Linked DNA regions of Homo sapiens. The protein of the gene in region 1 interacts with the protein of each later gene in a pairwise test. Each region holds a gene or a part of one and is shown on either strand. Other genes may lie near its edges.

Region 1 (9,490 bases):
CAGTCTAGGCTCCTAGAGACCCTCCTCCCCAACCCAGGGCTCCTGGAGTTACAGTGCCCTTTACTGGGTCTCTAAGTCCCTAAGTCACCAGGTGATCCTGCCTCTCCCACAGCAGGGAAAGTTTTCTGCCCCTTTTCTGAGACAAATGGGAAGGTAGAGGGAACACTTTTGGTACTAGGAATGCAGACCCCATTGGCCCCGCCATGGATCGCATCATGTCACACATCCCCTTACATATTTCTCAGCCCCCTTTCCCTACTATATATCCATTGGGTATACCCTGTGTCCCCCTCCCCACGACCACAGGCCCATACACAGCCACTTCTCTGACAATTCCATCGGAATAAAAGACACTCCTCCCATGGTACACGCCATCTGCAGCACGCAGTCGTAGCAGAGGGATGCCCTCATCCCATCACAGGCACTCACTACAGAGGAACAGTTGTAAACACATACTCATCTTGTTGCAGAAAACACATTCACTTGCATTCTCACTGACACATACATCCTCACATGACAAAATCCAGTTGTATAAAATACCCAGACTCCCTTCTTTTCCTCCAACACTCTTCCCAACATGCATTTTGCTTGCAGTTGTATCCCAACAGCCTAACACAGTGCCTGATACATACTAGATGCTCTATAATTATTCATTGAATACATTGTTAAAATTATTTCTTAAAGACATGCCCAGGACATCTGCACAGCCCTCTCAATCCTGACTGTCACACAGGCTTTCCCATCCAGCTTTCCCCTCGTGGATGCACGGCCCCACAAACACAAAGTAATTAAGTTTCCACACATATCCGTAAGCTAAAGGACAACCCCTGGCCCGGGGGTCTCTTTCAGAGCGGGGAAGAGGAGGAGATTGTGTGGGATCCAAAGGGGCCTCCCCCTGGGCTGAGCCCGTCCTTTCCTCCTCCCCCAGCCCGGGCCCTGGCCCCAGCTGCTCTTCTTTTAATTGGAGGCACTTTTTTATTCTGCAGGCCAGGGGGAGCCGGTGCTTGGGGGGAGGGGTGTTACCAGGTGGCCTCAGAACCAGAGAGAAGGATCTGCAACTCACCTAGGTTCCTGCAAGATAGTCCTGTGAGGCAAGAGCCAAGTTTAGGCTTAAGGAAGCAGCTTGTAGTGAGTGGAGTCAAGAAAGCAGTGTTTGCGTCTGGTCTGCCCCTTTCCAGCTTTCAGTGCCTTGGTTTTCTCATCTGTAAAATGGGGATAACAAAAACCACATCACAGGATTAAAGATGAGTGGAGAGATCATTCTGGTGGCTCACACATGGCAGTTGCTCTGTGAGTCCTGCTTTCTTCCCCTCCCTCCTCGTTCCTATCAGGGCTGTTTTGCAAGGCATGCAAAAGCACGGTGGAAACACAGAAGCTGCAGCGAATATAAACTTGTGTGAGTCTCCTCTCCTGTTTCAGAAAACTTCCCAACCTTGCAACACCGTGCTCAGGTAACACTGCTCTCAGGAGAAGGGGTGGGCGCCAGAGCCCAGCAAATCCTGACCCTCCAGTCTCATCTTTCTAGGTAAGGAAGGGACAGAGAGGGTAGTCTTGGCCCTCAGTAAATACCCTATTGGAAGACAAAGGCTGGGATTAAGCTGACTCACAGAATCCCAGCACCTCATTGAGGGTAAAAGTTGGGAGTATCCCCAATTGGGATAAAAGTTGACTCTGATAAACAAAAAAGGTAGGAGGGGAAAAAGGAAGAAATCCGTCAAGGAAGCGGCTGTGATCGCAGGGGAAAGTCAGTATATCCCTGGGCTGCTGGATTTTAATGAGAAGAGCTTGACAGTCTTAGTGGGCCATGTACAAGGGAGTGGTGACTCTGCCAACCTTAAGCTGGGCCAGGAATGGTAAAGTCTCCTCCCAGGTACCCTGGACAACTGATACCAGATCTGAGGAGTTCAAGAGGTAGATCAGGCAAATGCCAAAAGGGTTGGAAGGCCATCTGAGCTGGAGATGTGCACCTGGAAAGATAGGTGGTTTATTTTATTTTATTTTATTTTATTTTATTTAGTTTTATAAATTTTACCTTCAACCAACCCACACCAAAAGATGGGGTTTTAACTGCAGCAGGTAAAACTGTGGTGAGACTAAAAGGAGTGAGGCCACTAGGACCCAGCCTCAAAAAAAGCTGCAGTACCCTTCCCCATAGTTTTCAGCCTCAAACAAGGAAAATAGCTCAGATTTTGAGATTCCAGATCAATCTTCTCTGTCTATGGAACTTGGAGCAAGTTTGTTCTCTTTACTGAGTCTCAGTTTTCATTTTCTTTTTAGAGATGGGGCATTGCTATGTTGCCCAGGCTAGAGGTGCAATTATAGCACATCTCAGGCTCAAATTCCTGGCCCCAAGTGATCCTCTAGCCTCACCCTGCAGAGCTGCTAGAACTACAGGCACGGGCCACTGCACCCAGCCATTTTTTTCTTTTTAAAAATGAGATATAATTCATGTGCTATAATATTCAGCCCCTTTAAAATGTATAATTCGGTGGGTTTTAATATTTTTAAAAGTTATGTAACCATCACCACTATCTCATTCCAGAATGTTTTCATCACTCCAAAAGGAATTCTGTATCCATTAGCAGTCAATTTCCATTCCCTGCTGCCCCCAGTTCCTGAAAACCACTAATCTATTCTCTGCCTCTGTGGATTTGCCTATTTTGGACATTTCATAAAAGTGGAATCATACAATATGTGGCCTTTGTGCTTGGCTTCTTTCACTTAGCAGAATAGTCTCCTAGGTTCATCCATGTTATAGCATGAACCAGCATTTCCCTTCTTTTCCTTTTTATGGCTAAATAATATTCCATGTGTGGATATAACAAATTTTGTTTATCTATTCATCAGTTGGTGGACATCTGAGTTGTTTCCCCTTTTGGGCTATCATGAATAATACTGCCATGAACATTCATTCAATTCTCTCAATTATAAAAAATTGGGACATTTCTATTAACTTGCCTGGGTTGTTATAAGTCTTAAATGAGATAAGCATGATGTGGTACCTGGCACAAAACTGTCTTTCAATAAATAATTTATTTCTGCTTTAGTTCCCTCAAGATAAGAGGCAGGAAGAGATTCATTCGGGTTCAGACAACTTCCAAAGTAAGTTATGGAACTCCTTGGGAAGGGGTAGAGTACCTGGATTGGGTAAGTGGGAAGAAGAGAACTGGCGAGGGAGCGGAGCCCTCTCATGTTTCTGCTTAGTGTTTTTTTTTGTTTGTTTGTTTTTTGAGATGGAGTCTTGCACTGTTGCCCAGGCTGGAGTGCAGTGGCGCGATCTCAGCTTACTGCAAGCTCTGCCTCCTGGGTTCACGCCATTCTCCTGCCTCAGCTTCCTGAGTAGCTGGGACTACAGGTGCCCACCACCACGCCTGGCTAATTTTTTGTACTTTTGGTAGAGACGGGGTTTCACCGTGTTAGCCAGGATGGTCTCAATCTCCTGACCTCGTGATCTGCCCGCCTTGGCCTCCCAAAGTGCTGGGATTACAGGTGTGAGCCACCATGCCCAGCCTTCTGCTTAGTGTTTACAAACAACTACCAATTTCACATTTGGCTTTGTCTTGAGTGGGCCTTTGTCCACCTGGCTAGAGCTCAGACAAGGTTTTCCCCACAGATACAAACTTCCAACCAGCACGTAGGTTTCCAGGCTAACCCACAAAAGCAAGTTGAGTCTAGCTCCTCCATATTGATCCACACCAATCATAGCTATTCTGAAATGTACTTTCCTCACATCTGTAAAATAGGGAGAATACTCATCTCGAAGGATTGGTGTAGAGTTTATATTGTTCTCCATAATACTAACATCTGTCTTGTTGTATTTGCTTCTTTGCTTATTGTCTGACCCCCTCTATAGAATGTAAGCTTCATGAGGTCAGGACCTTTGTTTTGTTCACTGCTATGTCCCCCATGCCTAGAACAGTGCCTGACACATAGTGAGTACAGTACTCAATAAATATTATTGAATAAAGAGATACATTCTTTGTTATTCACCCAAGATGACCATATTTTGTTGTTTGGGGCTGTATTCTTCAGGAGAGAACAGAAATGAATAAGCCACTCTCTGCCTCCAAGAAGATCTCTTCAAGTGGAGGTGACAGACATGCCCAAAGCAAATAGATTGCAATAAGACTTGATGGGAGAGAATGTGAGTCTTCACATCCTAGCATCTTTCCAGATAGAGACAGGGCCTACCCAAAAGTCTAATCTGAAACTGAACTGAAATAGAACAGAAATAGATCCCAAGTGATGGAACCTGTGCCTTTCCCAAAGCTTGGCTTCTAAAAGGTAGCAAACATTTTCTACTGGAGAGGGGAAAGACAGGAAGAAGAAAAAGGGAGTTTCCTCCTTTTCTCTTGGGCTCTCAGCCAGACAGCCACTGGCAAAACGTTGGAAAGGCCTAAATTTGTCCTGGATGCACTTCCCTGATCCTAGTCCCACCAATCCCAGCCCCCACGGCCTTAAGCCCCTATGGCTCCCTCCCAAGATTCCAAACGTAAGAAAAGAACACACACCACAGTCCAAAGGCTTCTTGTCTGGAATAGCCAACCCTGGGGTAATTGTTAGGTGGAATGCAATCTGGTTGAATTCATTCAAACACTGTAGGAATTGCCTCTTTCGAACCCTGTAGGATTTTACTTCTTGACGCATCTGTTTATTTAAAACCAAAGGGGTATGTTGAGGCATGGGCACCCTGGCAGCAGACCCCAAACCAACCCTCTTGACTTGTGCCTGCCTTTCAGGATATGTTCCCTTCCTGAATTTGTCTAAGAAGGCTGAGTTGGGGGGTGGTTGCTGATTTTTATAACATATAGCCAGTTGTTCATAGGCCTGTGTTTTAAAGAAGGGCAAGCCTGAACTCACCGTCCTGCCTCAGGGCCTGGGCTCCATACCTGGGGAGTAGACAGTCTTCTACTTTCTAAAAAGCTGGACTTGAAATTTGGAGTAAATCTCCTGGTTGAGTGACAGGTGTTTCGCAGCTGAGCCCTTGAGGAGATTCTCCAGTTGGGCAGAGACATCCCTTCCTCAGACGCCTTGTGGGCTGGACTCCTTTGGCCCAGTTCAAAGTGAGGGGAGGGCTCCCAACAGGCCGGGAAGACAGTTGACTTCACCCTCCTTGGGTTTGTCTGTCTGTCCGTCTCTGGGAATGGTCGCTTCCTGTTTTCCCTTTTCCTTTTAAGCCTCGCCTTGTTCCCCTCTTCTCTCTCTTCATGAACTACTCCGAGTCTTGGTCTCCGTCCCTCTATCTCTGGCTCCTGCATCTGTCTCGGCTTCTGGCCTTCCTCTCCCCCTCCCCTCCCCTCCCTCGCGCTGTCATTCACCCCGCTCCTCTCCGCGCACAGCCAATGGAGAGACCCAGTCGAAACCGCGAAGCTCTCTTGCACCGGGCTTTTTCGCCTGGTGATTGATGTCCCAGAGTCAACAGCGAGCGAGCAGCCGGAGCGGGGAAGCAGAAGCCAGAGAGGGGAAGAATACGGCGCCCCCTCTCTCCCTCCCCTCCCCCTTCTACTTTAGCCTTTCTGCGCACTTCGCTTCCAAGTCTCCGCGCAGCCAGGAGCCGCTGTTGCCTCCCAGCCCCTGCTAGCTGCCCCCCGAGCCGAGCGCAGCGAGCGCCGCCGCCCGGGCCCCCCGGTGGGGCCAGGGCCAGCATGGAGCACCTGGGTCCGCACCACCTCCACCCGGGTCACGCAGAGCCCATTAGCTTCGGCATCGACCAGATCCTCAACAGCCCGGACCAGGGTGGCTGCATGGGACCCGCCTCGCGCCTCCAGGACGGAGAATACGGCCTTGGCTGCTTGGTCGGAGGCGCCTACACTTACGGCGGCGGGGGCTCCGCGGCCGCGACGGGGGCTGGAGGAGCGGGGGCCTATGGTACTGGAGGTCCCGGCGGCCCCGGAGGCCCGGCAGGCGGCGGCGGCGCCTGCAGCATGGGTCCTCTGACCGGCTCCTACAACGTGAACATGGCCTTGGCAGGCGGCCCCGGTCCTGGCGGCGGCGGCGGCAGCAGCGGCGGTGCCGGGGCACTCAGCGCTGCGGGGGTAATCCGGGTGCCGGCACACAGGCCGCTCGCCGGAGCCGTGGCCCACCCCCAGCCCCTGGCCACCGGCTTGCCCACCGTGCCCTCTGTGCCTGCCATGCCGGGCGTCAACAACCTCACTGGCCTCACCTTCCCCTGGATGGAGAGTAACCGCAGATACACAAAGGACAGGTTCACAGGTGAGTCCGGCCCGCGCGCTCCCCGCCTGGCCGCGGCCCGGGCTCCGTGCTACCCCTGCCCCGCCGGGTGGCTCCCCAAAGCCGGTTCTGCGCTCCAGGTCGCCCAGCTCTTCTTGGTGCTTCCCCCAAGTTGAGCCGCCCGCCCGATTCTATAACGCAGACTCGCCATGCTTGAAGAGTTCTCTCAGCCTGGACCCCTCTCTGTCTCCCGAAGGACCCCTGCTCGGAGGAGCTCTCCCTGGTCCCCTCTCCGGATCCACTAGCCGGGTCAGGCAGAGAGAAGGAGGCCATAGATTCAGGACCACCTTCTGCAGCTACTCTTGGCCTGGGAATCTTAGAGAAAGGGGTGCAACGTGAACAGTTTCTTCCGTCCTGGCTGCTGTTCTAGGACCCAGGAAGCGAGCCCCAGGATCAGACACAAGAAAAGAACAGGTTCCCCCACCTCCAGTCCCCTACACACATGCACTTCGCGCCCCTAGCTCCGGTGCCCGTGGTGCTGCGGGGCCAGTGGGGGCTCTGAGCCCCGGTAAATCAGCAGAACCAGTGGCCTTTTTTTTTTTTTCCGGAGAGCAGGCTTCATCTGGGAGGATGGCAGCGGGGCTTAGCCGCCCAGGACAGCTAGCTTTTCATTTTCGTTCTCTCCCGGCTGGGTGTCCTACCCCGGGCCCAGCCCTGTTATCTTGGGCACGAACAATGCACCGGTAGGCTGGTGATCGGTGGCGGGAAGACTACTCCCGGGACATTGGGTACTAAGTGGTGGCCGCTGCCGCCTTCTCTGCTGCCCGCTCCCGCCTTCCTCTGCTGGCCCTGGCTCCCTCTGCTCCCGTTTCCACTCTGGGCACTCAACTCTCCCTCTGGCGTGGATCCCTTCCCCCGTTCTCACTTTCTGCTCCCCTTAGGGTTCCCTGGATCCTAGACCACGATCCTTCCGTCCGGGCTGGGAAGCAGCCACAAATTGAGCCCAGGTTAGCCAGCCGATCTTAGAGAGAGGAGGCAGGAGGCACTGGCTGCTGCTGGCAGAGATGGGGCCTCCTGGGGGTCCCCCGGTTCAAGGGCCCAACAGTGGAAGGGGGGTTTACATAACTACTTGGGAGAAGCTGCTGAGAGCTAGATACTGGGCCAGGAGATTCCAAAGCACCCCTGGCTTCCTGCTTCTGTTCCAGGCAGCAGCACAGCCAGGGAAACTGCTTCTGCAGCTTCTTACCAGACTCTGGGGCCACGGCAGAAGTGGTGTGGAGGCTGGTGTCCAGAGGAAGAACAGTTGCTTGGGTCTAGGCCTCAGGAAGGGCCCTCCCTAGAGGGGTCCCAGTGCCCCCAACCTAAGTTTTCTCTGGCCTGGGGCAGCAGGGCCTGGTGCCCATCCCATTCCCCACCCAGGCCAGGCCAGTCTTGAAGGGCCCTGCTGGAAACCCAGCCGGGAGTCCACTAATCCTGGGCCTCTGGTGAAAGGTACTCGGTTTAGGGCCTACCGCGGGGCCCTAATACTGTGTCAGGCATGAAGGCGGTTTCAGCGAGTGTATGGCTGTGGCCTTGTTTTGCTCTGTGTCCTGTGTGCTTGTCCCGTGCCTGTGCTTGTCTGGTCCTGTTTGGGTGTATAGATCTGTGAGTTTGCCCCCGTTGTACGTTGTGTTGGTGTGTGCTGCTGTGGATGGAGGCTCAGGTCGGGTTCCAGAGTCAGGCTCGGCCTCTTACTCTGAGCCTGAAGGCCTGGGGCTGACTGAGGGGAGGGGAGCGTGACCATTAGCTCGCCTTAGACTGCCCCTGGAGGAGAGGCGGCAGGGAGGTGGTTGGGCTCGCGGGAGCCCGGGGCCAGGGAGGCCTCCGTGGTAGCGGCGACGGCGGCGTCGGACTGGCGGGCAGGAGGAGGCCGTTTCCCGCCGTGGGCTTGTCGCTGAGGGCTAACGGGAGGATCTCGGCCCTGCTCGTGGGGGTTCAGCTGCTGCGCTCGCTGACTCGCGGGGTGTTGGGCCTGGGACGCTTCCTGACGCTCTGCTGCTTGCCTCTGCCGTCTGTCTGTCTCCCGCTCCAGTGGCCCTCTCACCCTTCACTGTAACACGCCGTATAGGTCACCCCTATCAGAACCGGACGCCCCCCAAGAAGAAGAAGCCGCGCACGTCCTTCACACGCCTGCAGATCTGCGAGCTGGAGAAGCGCTTCCACCGCCAGAAGTACCTGGCCTCGGCCGAGCGCGCCGCCCTGGCCAAGGCGCTCAAAATGACCGATGCGCAGGTCAAAACCTGGTTCCAGAACCGGCGGACAAAGTGGAGGTGAGCAAGCGGGGCGGGCCGGCCGCCCGCGAGCGGCGCGGTCTCAGGCAGCTCTCGGTTCATTGGCCTCTCGTGGGGCGCACATACTTTTTCCGCTCGCGGTTTCTGATCCTTTCGGAGGAGCGAGCTCCCGCTAGGCTTGCGGGGAGCTGGAAGCAACCGAGGCCGATAGCTGGGATGGGGCTGAAGAGCCCTGGCTCTGTTTTACCGGAGGCTTCAGGGCTTTCTGGTTGGCACACTCTCTGCCGGTGTAGACGCGGCAGGTCTATTCCGCCGCTTGGGCAAACAGGCGGGTTAGTGCACTCCACGCAGTCCAGGCTCCAGGGATCTGTGAGTCCTGGGGAGCTTTTTGTTTGCGCAAACTCTTGCTTATGGAATCCTGCTCTGTCCTGGAGACTGGATGCAGAACAGCCCGCACCTTGTTGCAGCGCTCCAGCCGGGCTCCCGGCAGAGGGTCTGTGGCCCCAGACCGCGGCCCTGCTGACGGTCTCCTCCCCCAGACACCCGGCCTTTGCGCAGCCGGTCCCTACCCTGGAAGGAGAAAATCAATCCGCGCCGGCTGCGGCGGGGTTTCGCGGGTCCCACTGGAAGGGGAATCAATTAGGAGCAGATGGGTGTGTGTGAGAAAGAGAATTTTCCTTCTCCCATAGCCACAACTCTAGTTACTACGCAATGGGCTTTTTGTTTTGTTTTGTTTTTTCACATTTACGCTCACGGACGTGAAGCGTCCCCAACACTCTCGAGCAGCCTCCCTCTCCGCGCGCACTGACGCTTTCTCCGGCTGCACCCTCTGGCACGCTGCACCCTCTGGCACGCTGCACCCTCCCGCACATCTGGCCCTTGCCCGCCGGAGTTTCTCCCCTAGCTCAGGCCCCATGGGGTAGCGCGGGAGAGTCTGGGCGAAGTCGGCGGCGCCGAGACGGGCGGGCCTTGGGGCAGGAGGAAGGAATTGGAGTTTCCTCTTTTTCTGAACGAAGGCGAGGAATCTGCCTGGGATTCCGCCTACGGGG
Region 2 (3,298 bases), on another chromosome or scaffold:
AATTGGAGACCAGCCTGGGCAACAGCATAGTGAGACCAGGAAGCAAAAAAAAAAAAAATGCTGTCACTCACATCTTATTCAGTGAAGGACTTCAGAGGCAAATGTTTCTACCTGACCCTCCTTTCTGCCCCACAGGTCTCCAACTGGTTTGGCAACAAGAGGATTCGCTATAAGAAAAACATCGGAAAGTTCCAAGAGGAGGCAAACATCTATGCTGTCAAGACCGCCGTGTCAGTCACCCAGGGGGGCCACAGCCGCACCAGCTCCCCGACACCCCCTTCCTCTGCAGGTGGATCCCACTGTCACCCCGGCTGACTGTTTTGCACACTTCCTGCTTTTGTTCCCACTTCCTATCTAGGCAGGATCATAGCAGAGAGGGGGCCTTTTGGGGTGAGAGGGACCGAGCTGAGATAGGCTGGAGATGTCAGGGGACAGAGGCCATTCCAGTGATCTTAGTTCTGCCTTTCTTCCCACGGGTGGCCAAGGAACAGCCTGCTCTTTCTGTGTGTTGGAATGTTATTTTGTGGATAATTGGAGTATAGTAGCATGTCCCCACAAGAGTTGAGAGTTGTGGTTCATCCTCTACCATCACGGGCTCTATTACACTCTTCCCTCTCTGCCCCCACAAGGCTCTGGCGGCTCTTTCAATCTCTCAGGATCTGGAGACATGTTTCTGGGGATGCCTGGGCTCAACGGAGATTCCTATTCTGCTTCCCAGGTCAGATGCCCATCTCCTCTCGAATAGGGCTTTCCCCAACTCCATTTCCTCTACTTTAGGATACAAGACCTCTTTCCTCTGAGGCTTCTCTTCACTGTCATACCTTCCTCTGCTGCCTGCAGGTGGAATCACTCCGACACTCGATGGGGCCAGGGGGCTATGGGGATAACCTCGGGGGAGGCCAGATGTACAGCCCACGGGAAATGAGGGTGAGTGGATCCTGAAGCTCCTCTCTGTCCAGTTCTCACAGGACAGAGGGGCATTTTCCCTAGTAATGTTGTGCCCACACAGGGTTCCCAGGGCTTTCTCTGTTTTCTGTACTCTGTCTCTCCTTTCAGGCAAATGGCAGCTGGCAAGAGGCTGTGACCCCCTCTTCAGTGACATCCCCAACGGAGGGACCAGGGAGTGTTCACTCTGATACCTCCAACTGATCTTGCCCCTCAGGGTCACAGGGGTGGGGGCTCTCACAAGGCGACTTGAAGAGGACGCAGGCTTCCAGAGGACAAACCCCAATACAGGAGAAGCACAAGACAGAGAAGGGCCAATGGGGTCATCCCCTCCCTAACGAGACTCTCTGTGCTGGGGGTGCTAATTACATGGCAGGAAGAATGGGGCCTCTAAGGGGAGTGTGGGGTCTGTCTCTCCCTTTTTTCCATCTTTTTCCTCTCTCGCTTTCTTTCTTACACAGAAACATACACATACCGAGAAACCTATTTCTCAGACCCCTTTTTCTCCTCTGTCTTTCTCTCTCCCTCTCCCACACCTCACACACACATACTCCCACTTGCAACTATTCTGTTTCTCTCCTGGGCTCCCCCACTTTCCCTTCCCCACCCCACTTGTATGCTCTGGAATCTGTGGAGACGCCAGCCCTGCCCAATCAGAGATGCCAAAAATGGGGACATGACTTCTGGACAGAGGACATGGGCCACGCCCCCATGCATCCCCACCCCCGCCCCTCCGGACGGCTTACTTACCTCATACGCAGCTCATCTTAAACCAATAGAATCGCTCGGTGGACGAGAGTGTCTGACTCAGATATCTACCTCGGAGGGAGTTTCTGCTACTTTAGGGAATTATTGACTGGGCTTTGGGGTTGAACTTTTTTTTTTTTAAAGAAAGAAAAAGAAACCCTGGGATCCATCTGTTTTTTTTGTTGTTGTTGTTGTTTTTGTTGTTGTTGGTGGTGGTGGTGGTGGTGGTTCTTAATTTTTAATTTAGTTTGGGGAAGTAGCTTGTTTTTTTTTTTATAAATATGTTGATTTCTTGTCTTTTTTTTTTTTTATTTCTTACTTTCCCATATTAGGGGTGATAGCCAAAGGGGTTCTGGTAAGAGAAAGGGGGACAAACAGAACTGGTAAAGAGGCCCCCCTGGCTCCAGGCCTGTCCATCAGGAAGTAAATTTTACAGGGCACCAAGCTTTGCCCCCTAAAATCCCTTAGGTGTTCTTTGTTCATGCAGGCAGGTTTCTGCCGCATTTGATGTGGAGGCAGTGAAGGGCTTGCCCTGCTGGCCTCTCATCCCCCTTCTTCCCACAACCCTTGGGCAGGGCTGGACTCAGTAATTTTGAGGAAATTGAAGATGCCATCTTCCCCTGTGAGTGACATGTCTTTAATTTTTTAAAAAACTACTATTTGAAAATTGGAGGGGGAAGAATGGGAAGGGAGTTATTGCCAAATATGTTAAATATGGGTTGGGGTGCTTGTATATGTATCTTCCTCAATTTCCCCATAAATGAGGTATCTTTTTGTCACACCAAAATCAAGGGGTAGGGAGAGGGAGGAGGTTGCAAAAAGCCAGATGTGGGGGAAAAGTAACATCAACACTGTCCCATCCTCAGCCCTGAACTAGCTACCATCTGATCCCCTCAGACATTCTCAGGATTTTACAAGACTGTCAGAGTGGGGAACCCCTCCCATTAAAGATCCGGGCAGGACTGGGGACAGGTTGGAAGTGTGATGGGTGGGGGGGTGGGAGGCATGGGCCGGGGGCAGTTCTCTCCTCACTTGTAAACTTGTGTAGTTTCACAGAAAAAAAACAAAATGCAGTTTTAAATAAAGAAATTTCTTTTTTCCCTGGGTTTAGTTGAGAATTTTTTTCAAAAAACATGAGAAACCCCAGAAAAAAAATGATTTTCTTTCACGAAGTTCCAAACAGGTTTCTCTCCTGTTCCCCAGCCTTGCCTTCATGATGCAGGCCCAATTGCACCCTTGCAGACAACAGTCTGGCCTGAACCCTATTGATGCAACTTTGCGCAATCAAGATGGGGCTCCAGTGGGTCACCAGGCAGCCCTGATGGACTGATGGAATAAATAGGATCGGGGGCTCTGAGGGAATGAGACCCTAGAGGGTACACTCCCCATCCCCCAGGGAAGTGACTGTACCCAGAGGCTGGTAGTACCCAGGGGTGGGGTGATAATTATTTCTCTAGTACCTGAAGGACTCTTGTCCCAAAGGCATGAATTCCTAGCATTCCCTGTGACAAGACGACTGAAAGATGGGGGCTGGAGAGAGGGTGCAGGCCCCACCTAGGGCGGAGGCCACAGCAGGGAGAGGGGCAGACAGAGCCAGGACCCTGGA

Evidence for each region. Proteins that work in one complex are often made in the same cells at the same time.
Region 2: the proteins of TLX1 (region 1) and PBX2 interact in binary tests that used the Homo sapiens proteins (3 or more experiments, as listed by UniProt).

What each region holds. Positions count from the first base shown.
Region 1 is NC_000010.11:101,125,897-101,135,386, forward strand, and holds the start of TLX1 (T-cell leukemia homeobox protein 1), read left to right. Parts: upstream 1-5,403; 5' UTR 5,404-5,645; coding exon 5,646-6,213; intron 6,214-8,242; coding exon of another isoform or gene 8,243-8,278; coding exon 8,279-8,480; intron 8,481-9,490. UniProt on the Homo sapiens protein: Controls the genesis of the spleen. Binds to the DNA sequence 5'-GGCGGTAAGTGG-3'.
Region 2 is NC_000006.12:32,184,233-32,187,530, reverse strand, and holds the end of PBX2 (pre-B-cell leukemia transcription factor 2), read left to right. Parts: intron 1-135; coding exon 136-289; intron 290-629; coding exon 630-718; intron 719-840; coding exon 841-927; intron 928-1,056; coding exon 1,057-1,149; 3' UTR 1,150-2,798; downstream 2,799-3,298. UniProt on the Homo sapiens protein: Transcriptional activator that binds the sequence 5'-ATCAATCAA-3'. Activates transcription of PF4 in complex with MEIS1.